3 separate regions of the Homo sapiens genome follow, and regions 1 and 2 are each linked to region 3. Evidence: fine-mapped expression QTL. A gene starts in region 3. Each other region holds a variant in brackets. All regions are shown on one strand. Distances are between the middles of the regions. Region 1 overlaps POC5 (POC5 centriolar protein). Region 2 overlaps ANKDD1B (ankyrin repeat and death domain containing 1B). Region 3 holds the start of ANKDD1B (ankyrin repeat and death domain containing 1B).

What was found. PIP is the estimated chance that this variant, and not a neighbour inherited with it, causes the effect. A credible set is the group of variants that fine-mapping cannot tell apart.
Region 1: its variant is the best candidate, but not a certain one, in a credible set for the expression of ANKDD1B in tibial nerve (GTEx, PIP 0.89).
Region 2: its variant is the best candidate, but not a certain one, in a credible set for the expression of ANKDD1B in T cells (TOPMed, PIP 0.59).

Annotation. Positions count from the first base shown.
Region 1 is chr5:75,674,138-75,678,382 of GRCh38, reverse strand. POC5 (POC5 centriolar protein) reads left to right here. Exons shown (of 12, transcript NM_001099271.2): 11 at 433-609; 12 at 3,805-4,245. The coding sequence ends at 3,948. Among named protein-coding and RNA genes, the nearest start is that of POC5, 41 kb to the left of the region's middle. The variant T/C (reference allele first, on the strand shown) is at 2,362.
Region 2 is chr5:75,656,373-75,660,617 of GRCh38, reverse strand. ANKDD1B (ankyrin repeat and death domain containing 1B) reads right to left here. Exons shown (of 14, transcript NM_001276713.2): 10 at 1,237-1,335. Among named protein-coding and RNA genes, the nearest start is that of ANKDD1B, 47 kb to the right of the region's middle. The variant T/A (reference allele first, on the strand shown) is at 1,810.
Region 3 is chr5:75,609,475-75,613,719 of GRCh38, reverse strand. ANKDD1B (ankyrin repeat and death domain containing 1B) reads right to left here and starts at 2,267. Exons shown (of 14, transcript NM_001276713.2): 1 at 1,893-2,267. The coding sequence starts at 2,085. It overlaps POLK (DNA polymerase kappa), which reads right to left. Exons shown (of 15, transcript NM_016218.6): 15 at 3,729-4,245. RefSeq lists enhancers at 1,160-1,966, 1,967-2,773, 2,774-3,581.

The DNA of each region.
Region 1 (4,245 bases), 65 kb before region 3:
AGGAACTTAGGTGATAAAATGACAGAGATCTATACACAGGCATTATCTCATGGTGAGCTTCCTGGTTTTGACTTTGTTATATTCTAATTATGTCAGATGTAACCATGGCAGGAAACTGGGTGAAGAGCACACAGTACTTTTCAATATGATCTCTGTGTCTTTCTATAAATCTATCATTTAAAAAAAAAAAGTTGGTTTTTTAAGTTTCTAAAATCTTATAAAATCGTTGGCATACTCAGGTTAAAGGGATATTTTGGGGTGTTCAGTTTTGTTTTGCTTTTCGTCTTGTGATTTTGTTTTTTCCATGTTAAAGTTGGTTGAACATACAGTTATTTTAAGTGCCTGTGTATTCTTCATAATTTATGGAATCAATAGATTTTGCTGTGGATTTTCTGCCACCTTGTTACTTCTTTTATTTTTTTTTCTTCTTAGTATGTGCCAAGAGTTGTAACCTCTGCACAACAGAAAGCAGGAAGAACTATTACAGCCCGGATCACAGGAAGATGTGATTTTGCTTCAAAAAATAGAATTAGCAGCAGTTTAGCTATAATGGGAGTTTCTCCTCCCATGAGCTCAGTTGTTGTGGAAAAACATCATCCAGTCACAGTGGTGAGTCCACATTTGATGACCTTTTGTCAAAAAGTCTTTTTCCTGAGAGTTCATAGACTAGTAAACACTTACATAACATGTTGAGAAGATAAAAATTTATGATGACTGGTACTTGTTCTGCCTTTTCCTGTTACAGTTTTTTTTTTTTTTTTAATATATATACTTGTTTTTCTCAAACCTGCTATAAATCTACGTTTCTGCTGTTGGGAAATTAATTTCAGAAACATCGTTTCTTCCAAACTGTAAAAATTATAAAATACTAAAAGTAATCCAGTGTGTTTGTGGTCAAAAGAGTAAAATATGTAAATGCTTTATTATCAGTTTAAAAAGAGACAAAAATTGTTCACTCACTAGCTGCTCATGTAGCAGATATTTGATTACAAGAAAACTCCCCTACATTTATAGTTTTTAATTTTTGGTCCTTTTTTAAAAAAAGTCTTCCCCTTTTTTCAGTACAATTGTCAGCATGTTTTTAGTTTAACAAAATTCAACTTGCAGTAAATGCATGTGATATAAAGAAGGTGCATTGAATTTGAAGCAAAAATTTTAAAACCCGAGTTAGTGCTTCAGCTTTGCTACTTGTTGGCTTTGTGATATATACAAATCAAGTAAAATATTTGAGCCTCCACTTTCTCTTCTGTAAAATGGGGTTAATAAAAATAGTTAGCTCCTTGGGTTATTGTTAGGATTCAAGATTAAATGAGATAATGTGAAAATTAAACGAGATGTATTAAGGCATTTTATAAACTATAAAACCATAAGCAAATTTAACTTACTGAAAGTTACTAGAAAAAGATACATGAGATATCTCTGAATTATTTCCTACAAATGTGTACGAATCAACAATTATCTCAAAAAGTATAATAAGAGTGATAAGAACATCCCTAAAGAAAAACAAGGATTTATTTATTTATTTATTTATTTATTTTTTATTTATTTTTTTTTTTGAGACAGAGTTTCTCTCTTGTCTCCCAGGCTAGATAGAGTGCAATGGCGCAATGTTGGCGCACTGCAATCTCCGCCCCCTGGGTTCAAACAATTCTCCTGCCTCAGCCTCCCGAGTAGCTGGGATTACAGGCACCCGCCACCACCCCCAGCTGATTTCAGGGACTGATTTTAAAAGAGAATGCCCTCTATAAATTCTCAGCATCGGACAACGTTCCTGTGTACTTTCTAAGTATTAGCAAAAAAAAAGTATATGGAATGATTTTAAATCCTTTTTTCCCGAGTACTAGCTGGGCACTAGATGATTAAATGAAGACAAGCTGGATTGATTTGAACTGAACTTCAGGTGAAGTGGGACCTTAGCGAGGTGGAAGGCTGGAGATAGAAGCACCAAGTCCAGATAGAGACATGGAGATGACAGAGGATTTATTTTAGAATTATCTTAGGTTTCATGTTTCATAAGTTGGACAGACTCTGAAAGTTCGTAGAAGACTTTTCTATATATTTTTGAATATGGAAGACAAGTTATCAAAAATGAGAAGAAATAAACCCACTTCTGTTTTTTCAGATGTAGAAAATGTATAGAGATGGTGAGAGACTGTCCATTTGTGAGGTAAAGAAGGTGTAAAGAGAGCACATGTGTGTTTATTTTTTATTAGACAAGCTTTTGTTTTGTAGTAATGATGGGAATTCATATTTTACAGAAGAAAAATCAAAGTACTAAACATTTAGAACCCTTGTTTCTGATACTTATCTCCCATGCTGCCCTCCCTTTATTCAGTATGTGCATTTCTTACCCACTAACTG[T/C]GTATGAACCAGATAGCCATCAGCTGCCTGGATTATGTGACAGACACAGTGGCAGTCATTTGTACTGTATTTCTTTTCACCCTGGGAATCAAGATCTAAATCTACCAGAAATAGTTATTACTAAAAAACCAAGGATGCGATTTGTGACACTGTAGCCTCATCTGCTGGGTAACTGCATGCTTCTAGGGCCACTTCATTCTCTGTCATATTTTGTGTATCATAATTTCAGTGGCTACTTTATTTCTACAGTTCCTCTTGCCCATCCTCCTCAAGGAGAAAGCCTTTTTGGCAGGCTCAGGTTAGTGGCTGGCAACTAATTAGGTGACTGGCAACTAAAATTTCTTATCTGTTGCAAGAGTATCTCCTATTTATAATGGTTATCCAGTTGTTTATGTACAAATAAACGTTTTTATAAGATACTTTAAGAAAAGAAGTTATTTTTCTTTAAAAAGGAGTTCTGTTCTTTTTAAAATGGAATCTGACAGGATCTTTTGTTTTTAAGAAGTTTCATTCTTTTTTTAAGCAAAAACTACAGCTTGGAGTTTTTTAAATACATAGTGAATGTTTTGACCAAATACATGTAATTTTACTTAAACTATTTTAACAATGACTTTTCTAAGTGGAAGACCCTAATAGAAATTGACATGTCCTAGTCAGTGATATGGACTGAGAACTTGATAACAAATCCCACTGCTGGCTACTAAGAAGCTTTATCGGGTTTAATAGGGAAAAGCCTTGTACTGATACATATTGTTCATGTTTACATGTAAATGTGTACTTGTATACATAGTGTGTACTTACATGCATTACATGCATATTATGTGTGTCAAGTAAGTCACGTGTGTCCTGACTTTAATGACTCAGTGCTCATGTCTGAGGTGTTCCTTTGAGCTCTGAGGTGATGTGCATAAAAGTTTTAGTCTGCTCCCAGGTGAACCAGGTTAAATATGAGGGCTCTGGTTTAAAGCAAGGACCAGACTGCATCCTGAGGGCTTCCGTGTGCCCCTGGGATTGTGAGATAATCACATCCACATACTAACAGTCAAGTAGAGAGAAGGAAGTTGGATGGAATGAGGGGAGGACTCAGGGCTGACCCCTCTTCCAGACACCACAGAGTTTCTCTCTGTATACAAAGCCTCTGTACACATTACAAGATTCCACTTGGCCCTGTTGGAGGAATGGCTGCCGTGGCTTTCTTAATGAGCCTTGTGGATATAGCTCTGATATTACACTGTGGGTGTTGAACATGTCAGTCAGACTGGGTAGGGGTTCCTTACAGACAAAGGCCTCATCTAATTAACAGCTGCTTCACTCCACTCATTGCTTCTTTCTACTGGATCTTAACAAATGTTTATTGGGTTAAATTATAGATGATAGATGATGAAATGATACATAGTATACATAATCTTGGGATATTATTAAAGCAGAATTTTGTCTTTTCAGCAAACCATTCCTCAAGCAACTGCAGCAAAATATCCCCGGACCATTCATCCTGAAAGTAGTACCTCAGCTTCCAGATCACTTGGAACCAGATCAGCTCACACCCAGTCTCTCACAAGTGTTCATTCCATAAAAGTGGTTGACTAAAGTGAATATGTCCATAGTGGGGTCTTTTAATCCCTCTGGTCTTACCAAGGGTTAGAAGTCTTTTGGTTTTAACTTTTCCATATTGTTAGAACATCATGGAGACATCATGTTCATCTGTTCAAAATTACAAGAGGCTTTTTCAAGCTCTACCATGCTTTGTAACTATATGTAGAAATTATTTTAATGTTATTTTTTATTTAAGCAATTAAGTAAAACTTTTTTAAATTAAAAAAGAAACTGGACTTTATTTCTTTAATATGTTTAGCCTGTTGCTGATTACAGCATCAAAATATATAA
Region 2 (4,245 bases), 47 kb before region 3:
TGACAACCCTCCGGAGGCTTAGCCTGCATTACTGCACCACTTGAAAGAAACAAAATTGTCCTTCTTTAAAAACAGGTTTACACAATAGCCAAAAGGTGGACGCAACCCAAATGTCCATCGATGGATGAATGAATGAACAAAATGTGGTATAGACATACAATGAAATGTTATTTAGCTTTGAAAAGAAATGAAATTCTGACACATGCTACAACATAGATAAACCTTGAAGACGTTACGCTAAGTGAACTAAGCCAGTCACAAAAAGGCAAATACTATGTGATTCCACTTATATGAGGTACTTAGAGTGGTCAAATTCATAGAAACAGAAAGTAGAATGGTGGTTCCCAGGGGCTGGGAGAAGGAAGAAATGGCAAGTTATTGAATAAGTGTAAAGTTTCACTTTTGCAAGATGAAAGTTTTGGAGACCAATTGCATAACAATGTGAATATGCTTAACCATACTGAACTATATACATAAAAATGGTTAAGACAGTGTTTATGTGTGTGTATTTTACCACAAATTTTTTAATTTAAAAAAACAAGTTTAGACATATGTAAAGTCATTCATTGCAGCTATGTTTATAAGAGCAAAACCTTAGGAACAACTTAAATGTCAATCAAGTGAGGACTAGCTGAACAAGTTGTGATATGTCTGTGCCACGCTATACTATGCAGCTCTAAAAAAAAAAAGAATGAAGAAACTCTCCATGTAGTAATATCTCCACTTAATAATGCTAAAAAAGCTAAATGCAGAACAGTATACTAGTTATAGGTATGCCATCAGTGTCTAAAAAGGAAGGAGGAAGGGAATAAGAGTAAAATGTGTTTATGTTTGCTTGCATATGCATAAAAAACTCTGGAAGGAACAGAAATAATTTATAATAATGGATATATATAAGCGGGGTAGTATGGTAACCAGACAAGTAGGAACAGGGGTGGGTGGGAAATTTTTACTGTTAAACCCTTACTAATTATATTCTTTTATTTCTGGACCATACGAATCTATAATCTTTTCAGAATTTGAATTTAAAAACACATATTTTTTCTTCAGAGTAAAAATTTTTACTGACATAGCTCAACCAAAATTGGGGTATTTTACTGACTATGAAGATGCATGGTTTCTCCAGTTTGTGCCCATTTCACAAAGGATATTCCAATAACGCTGCTCAAGGCTGACATCCAACAGGAAGGTCTTAGCAACCATCTCAGCTGAATGGAGTAAAGTCCATGCACTTACCTTGTCAACAGCCTTCAAGTCACAGCCTGCCTTCAGCAGGGTTTCCACCAGTTCCACATTTCCACGATCAGCAGCTACATGCAGAGGGGTTTGCTGCTTCTGCCATGAAATTAAGGAGGGGAACAAACTTGGACGGTGAAAAGACAAATGGAAAGTATAGCCATCCTATTTAGGTTCAAGGGAAAACACAGGTCATATATTTTTTAATGGATACTGGGGCATTCATTGCATTATTATTTGCAATAGTGAAAAACTGAAAGGAAATTACATGTTTAACAAGGAGACTCACTAGATAAATTATGATAATCTATATATTGGAATAACAGGCAACCATTAAAAATTATTTTTTTAAAAATGATTTCAATATTAGGTACCTAAAGTAGTCAAATATATAGAGACAGAAAGTAGAATGGTGGTTCCCAGGAGCTGGAGGAGGGAATGGGAAGTTACCGTTTAATAGATATAAAATTTCAGTTTGGGAAGATGAAAAATGTTCTGAAGATGGATGGTGGTGATATTATACCAAATGAATGTAATTAATGCTGCTGAACTGTACACTTAAGATGGTTAAAA[T/A]GGTGGATTTTATGTGTATTTTACTACAATAAAAATTATTTCGAAGATTTTTTAAAAATAAAAGACGCTTTTGATATAACATTTGAAACTTTAGGAAATGATACTATCTAGTTGAGCTTGATTTAATGAAAAATACACATAGAGAAAGAGACAAAAATACAGTACAGAAAAATGCTAATGATAAGGTCTAGATGAAGGGATTAGAGTTTATTTTTATTGCCTTCTCAATGCATTTCTGTTCTCTAAATTTTCTACGTTATAATGTATAAAGGAGTCCAAGACTTCAAATTTCCTTCTGGAGTAATCATTTTCCTATCAAGAGGATAAGAGTTTCAAAAGAAATATCTGAAATCACAAGAAAATCACCCGTCTTAACCTCTCACCAAAAGGAATGCAGATGTGAAGAGATTTCTAAAATATTAGGGCAGAGAGGATCCTTTGATGTGATCTAGCCCAACTCCTTAACCAGAAAGGGAAGCAACTACCCCAGACTCACAGAGCTGGGCAATGGCATGTGGCCCACTACTCTTCCTACCAGAGCACAGGGCCAATATGCTGGGGATATTACCAAAAAACATTTATATATTTATTTATATTTTAATTTTTTTCTTAGAGACAGTTTCTTACTCTGTCACTCAGACTGGAATGCAGTAGCATGATAGTAGCTCACTGTAACCTCGAACTCCTGGGCTCAAGCAATCCTCCCTTCTCAGTTTCCTGAGTAGCTGAGACTACAGGCTCTACTAATTTTTTTTTTTTTTTAGCGATGAGGCCTCACTATGTTGCCCAGGCTGGTTTCAAACTCCTGGCCTCAGGCAATCCTCCTATCTTGGCCACCCAAAGTGTTGGGATTACAGGTGTGACCCAAAACACCTGGCTTCCAAAAAGTATTTCTTTTTTTTTTTTTTTCTTGAGATGGAGTCTCACTCTGTTGCCCAGGCTGGAGTGCAGTGGTGGCGATCTCAGCTCACTACAACCTCCACCTCCTGGGTTCAAGCAATTCTTCTGCCTCAGTCTCCCAAGTAGCTGGGATTACAGGCGCCCAGCTAATTTTTTGCATTTTTAGTAGAGACAGGGTTTCACTATATTGGCCAGGCTTGTCTCAAACTCCTGACCTCATGATCCGCCCGCCTCAGCCTCCCAAAGTGTTGGGATTACAGGCATGAGCCACCACGCCCGGCCCCAAAAAGCATTTCTTAAAGACTCACCTTCAAATGGCAGTGTGTCTAGGTGTTTGTCATTCAAGACATTACACTTATACTGACAAACCTATCAAAGATCTGTACCAACATGGAACAGATGAAAATGGAATGTATCAAATGCAACAAAACCCATTTTAACAATACTGCTACAAGTCTAGAAGGCAGGAAATGCACTAAAACATTAAGAAGAGTTATCTTTCTTTGCTGGGGACTTCAAACACATTAAGTTTTTTTAGCTTATATTTTTAATTTTACATACATATTTTATATTTAAAATATAAAATTTCCTATTTTTTATGTGTATTCTTGGTCTAATAAAAAAATTAAAGTGATGAAGTCTGGTTCTGAAAAAGGATAGCAAACCTAACAAACACTCCTTCCCTAGAGTACATCTAGCCAGTTCTGTCAAAACCAATATCACATGTGAGCACGAAGCTCTGCCTCTGTGTTCAGCAAAGATTTTGCCCATTGGGAAAGATTTTAGATATTAACGTAGTTGAATACATAAGTATATTTAATAACAAAAGGAGATTGGTTTTTTTCCCCAGAAAAACTTTTGGGATAGGTAAAGGCAGGGGAGGAGGCTAGGTTCCCTGGAGGAGAGAAGGGACCGAAGTACAGGTAAATCTTCATTCAGCTCAGAGCAAAATTGAGCTCATAGGTGGGAATTGGAGGAGACTGCAGAGATCTGAGTCAACGCTCTGGTTTCACAGTGTATTAGGACAGGCAGGCATGCCCACTGCACCATGGCTCCTCCCTAGCCGGAAGGGCACCGCAGAGCCTTCTCTGGGAAGAGGCAGCCAGAAGGTCTCATCTGGCCTCGGGACCCTGGAAAGGCTCCTCTTCCCACTCCCCTACATATCCTGGAAGAGGGCAGGCCAGCCCCAGAAGAGCCCCAGAGAGCAGGCTCATTCAGTGCCCACCCCCATTCCCTTCATCATTCCGTTGCGGCATTCCCATTTCCAGCCAGTGATGGATTACTTTAACGAGTCATTTGATTCTGCTCCAGTTGACTGAAATTGGAGTGATTTTTCTTTTATTCCAAGAGGCCTCTTTTGCCTTTAGGTAAAGAGAAGATACATTTACTGTCTTTAATATAGAAACAAAGCTTCCTTCTTGTGGGGGAAAGGCTCCCTGCCAATTACAATATTTCACTCTGGGGGAGTGGCTTTTGATTTAAAGAGCCTCTGGCCATTTAGCTCTGAGCTACTGTTTTTCTATCAAAAATGCTGGG
Region 3 (4,245 bases):
CAGCACGACTAGCTAGCCTCTACATTTCCCTAGTCTTCCCTTCTTCAACATGTCATATCCTTTCCTTTCTCCTCAAATATCTGAATTTACTAATCTACGTAATTTACTTCCTCCCACTACCATCACCTAATTCTCAGTTAATACCGTTGCCTCATAGTGAAAACAGAAGTAATAGGACACGAATTCCCACATCTTCCCACCTAGGTGAGTCTACCAACCTACCTTCATTTATATATGCAGGATGAAGCATCCCTGTACCTAGGAAAGGCCAACCTCTACACTTGGGCTCTGGATCCCATCCCCTTTTATCTTTTCAAGTGTTTCATATGTCAATCTCCTGGAAATTATCTCTTCTTTCCTCTAGATCACTTAATCTCTCTCCAGTGGATCACTCCCCTCAAAAAATACTGAGATGCCATAATACCCTATGCATAAAAAACCCTCCCTTGACCCCAGCTTCCTTTCCAACTGCTGCTGCATTTTTCAACTTTCCATTACCCCAAACTTAAGTATTCTATAATTGCTGTCTCCATTTCTTCATCTCACAGTCTTGTCTCAACCCATGCTAATCAGACATCTTTCCCACCCCTCTACTGAAACTGCTCTTGTTGAGGTCACTCCGCCTTGCCAAAACCCAGTCATCATACCTCCGTCATGTGCATTGAGCTCTTGGCAACTTTGACACAGAGGAACACACACTCCATGTAACATGTTCTTCTCTAGAGGTCTGGTAAACCAACTTTCGCTTTCTAGTCTTTTCTACTGGCTCTTTTTCCTTTGCTTGATCTCCAACTATTAGAATGCCCTAGGGTTTATATAAAACAAATAATCTGTTGATGTAGGCATGATTCCTCCATTTTACAGATGAGGAAACTGAGATCTTCAAAAGTTATACCACTTGCTCATGCTTTGTAAGTTATAGAATTGTCCCAGGCAGCCTGACTCCAACCACATTACCCTGTCTCATGGCCTTCACTGCACTTACCTTAAATTATCTTATTCATTTATTTGCGTACTTATTTTATTGTCTATCACCCCTCCACCACAACAGAATGTTCCACCAGAACAGGGGTTGTCTTGTTCTCTCCAACCCTACATCTAGAACATGCCTAGCAAATAGTTAAGCCCTTGAAAATAGTTCTAGAATGACTGAATGAACACTATATTGATGAATTGGTGTATAGCTTCCAAGCCTGGTTTAGGAAATAAGGCCGTCCCAGCCAGTAGGCTTGGATGGTGTGCCCCGTTAAGAGGCTTGAGTACTGGGAAGGCTGAGGTGGGAGGATCACCTGAGCCTGAGGAGGTCTGTGATTGCACTACTGCCTTCCAGCCTGTGCAACAGAGCAACAAGACCCTACACGCGGGGCGGAGGGCGGGGGCGGGGCGGAGGGCGGGGGGGGGCGGGGGCAGACTTAAATCGCTTTCAGCTTTCGAACTGCTTAACAGCTGCCTCAGTTTATGCTACACATTATTCCCAAGGCATAGATGATCCACTCCATGCTTTAAAAACTTAAGTGCAGAAAGATTAAGTGACTGACTTATTTAAAGTCAGACAATAAATCGGAGCATGAGTCACGATATAGGAGATAAGAGCACATGAAACTCTTATTTGCAAAAGGACTTAATCATTATTTTTAAAAGCCTCCTCCTTAATTCGGAAGAATAATACTGTCCTTCCACCCACAGTACATGGTGGGGGTGGATTCCAAAGCTGAAAACCAGCCAACAGGGAGTGCAGCGGTGCAGGCTGGGACTCGGGGTCCCAGGGCTGAGTCGCCTCGCCAGTTTCCCTCCTGCAGCGTCCGGAGGTGCTGCTCTGGGTACCTTCTCAAGTCCCTTCGACCCAGCCCGCCCCGCAGCCTGATTTTCTGAGACCTCGTCCCGGGACTCACGGAGCTCGTGTCCGGCAACTGCTGTGTCCTCCTCTCCAAGACCCTCCCGCTTCGGGATCCGGGACAGGCTCCTCCAAGGCAGGGCGGCCGCGCCCCACAGGTCTTCCCTGAGACCCTTGGCGGCCGCAGCAGCCCGGAGCAGCAGCCCCCCTGCCGTGGCCCCTTGGCCCCGGGCGCGCCCGGCGGGGTCCATAGTCTCCTCCGCGGGCCCTGAGCGCAGGGCCAGACCCAGACTCGGACCCAGATCCAGACCCAGACTCGGACACAGATCCAGACCCAGGCAGGCCCAGGGCGCGGGGGCTGGACGCAGGCAGGTCAGCCCGGCCGGAGCGCAGGATCGAGTCCGCTCTCTGTTGTGGCGGTTCGCTGGGCAACAAGCCCCTAGTTTCCAGCCCTGCCCTGACTTGGGCTGGCCTGGGATAATCCGCCCTCAGGTGTGGCGTGCACAGTGCTAAGGTTTGGTTCTCTGGAAAATAAAACATCCAGCGACCATCGAGAACGGGCCATGATGACAATGGCGGTTTTGTCGAATAGAAAAGGGGGAAATGTGGGGAAAAGAGAGAGAGATCAGATTGTTACCGTGTCTGTGTAGAAAGAAGTAGAAATAGGAGACTCCATATTGTTCTGTACTAAGAAAAATTCTTCCGCCTTGGGATGCTGTTAATCTATAACCTTACCCCCAACCCCGTTCTCTCTGCAACATGTGCTGTGTCAACTCAGGGTTAAGTGGATTAAGGGCGCTGCAAGATGTGCTTTGTTAAACAGATGCTTGAAGGCAGCATGCTCGTTAAGTCATCACCACTCCCTAATCTCAAGTACCCAGGGACACAAACACTGCGGAAGGCCGCAGGGACCTCTGCCTAGGAAAACCAGAGACCTTTGTTCACGTGTTTATCTGCTGATCTTCTCTCCACTATTATCCTATGACCCTGCCACATCCCCCTCTCCGAGAAACACCCAAGAATGATCAATAAATACTAAAAAAAAAAAAAAAAAGAATAAGCAGAGAAATTGGGGAGGGTATTCAAAGCTGAACAACTAATGGTCCAAGGATATCACTATCACTATCATTAACACATGCTTTAGTCACCAGGAACTGCCAATTTTACTTCTCAAATCTCTTAATTACATCTGCTTCTCCATTTTTATTTCCATTGCCATCATTGCTTGTCACTGAATTTATTGTAATAACTTCTTCATAAGAATTTATTGTAATACCTTCTTCATAAGAATTTGTTGTTAGATGGATTTATTGTCTGTTGCTACATTTCAGGCACAGAATTAAGCACCTTTTGCACAGCCTCACTTAATTCTGAGGTATGGTGTATTCTATTATTAGCCCCGTTTGATAGAAAAGGATTCTGAGGCTTGAAGACGTTGGTGGAAGAAACAGAACTTGCCCCTAACGAGCATGACTTCTAAGAATGTGTTGTCAAGGGCGTGACTCACTCACCTTGCTCTACAGCAGGGGGTCACTTTGCTCCATCCCCAGGCCAAATCCCGCTGCTGCCTGTTATTGTAAATAAAATTTGTTTTAACACATTAAAAAAAAAAATTCCTGCAAAATCTACAAGCCCCAATGAACTCCCAGCTCTACTCTACCACTTCTTTGTATAATTTTGAGAAATGTCAAGGTTGAATTTATAACTAACACTATAGGAACTTCAATATTAAATCATTTCTAAATGGGCTTCCAACATTTTCTTTTGAATAAAGTAAGACTTGATTTCTCATTTGAAGACCATGAATTTTAATCTTTCCTGGCGGATTCTTTTGAAAAGTGAAATAATACAGAAGCAAGTCAAATTCTGACCCCCCAAATAAACTTCAAATAAGAAAGGTAATCAGGTTTTCATTTATTTATTCTTCTTACAAATTTACAAAAGATGTATCATTTTAATGTAAATTATGTAATATCAATGTTCATTTCAAACTTGTCAGTTTTTCCCTTCAAATTATTGTGCACCAAATTTGAGGCATTAAATTCAAAACAATGTTTCCTAATCAATGAAAAAACAAACATGACAAAATATTATTTATTTTATCAGAACACCGCCCATAACCTCAAACTTTCCTCTTTTAAAAAAGGGAAATGGGCCTAATGTTTGTAATAGAGATATGATAAAAACAATAGCAGGTAAGTTGAATTGAGTATTATGCAGAAATATCAGACAATGTACTAATATGGAAAGTATAATATGTAAATGGAAAAACAGGGCACCAAATTATATGTATATGTAGCATGTTTACAAGTAAAATTCTAAAAATCAAAAGAAAATACCCACACAAAAGAAGGAATAATAGTGAAAACAGCAGCAGATCAATGGAAAGCATACAGCCAAGTACAGAAAAA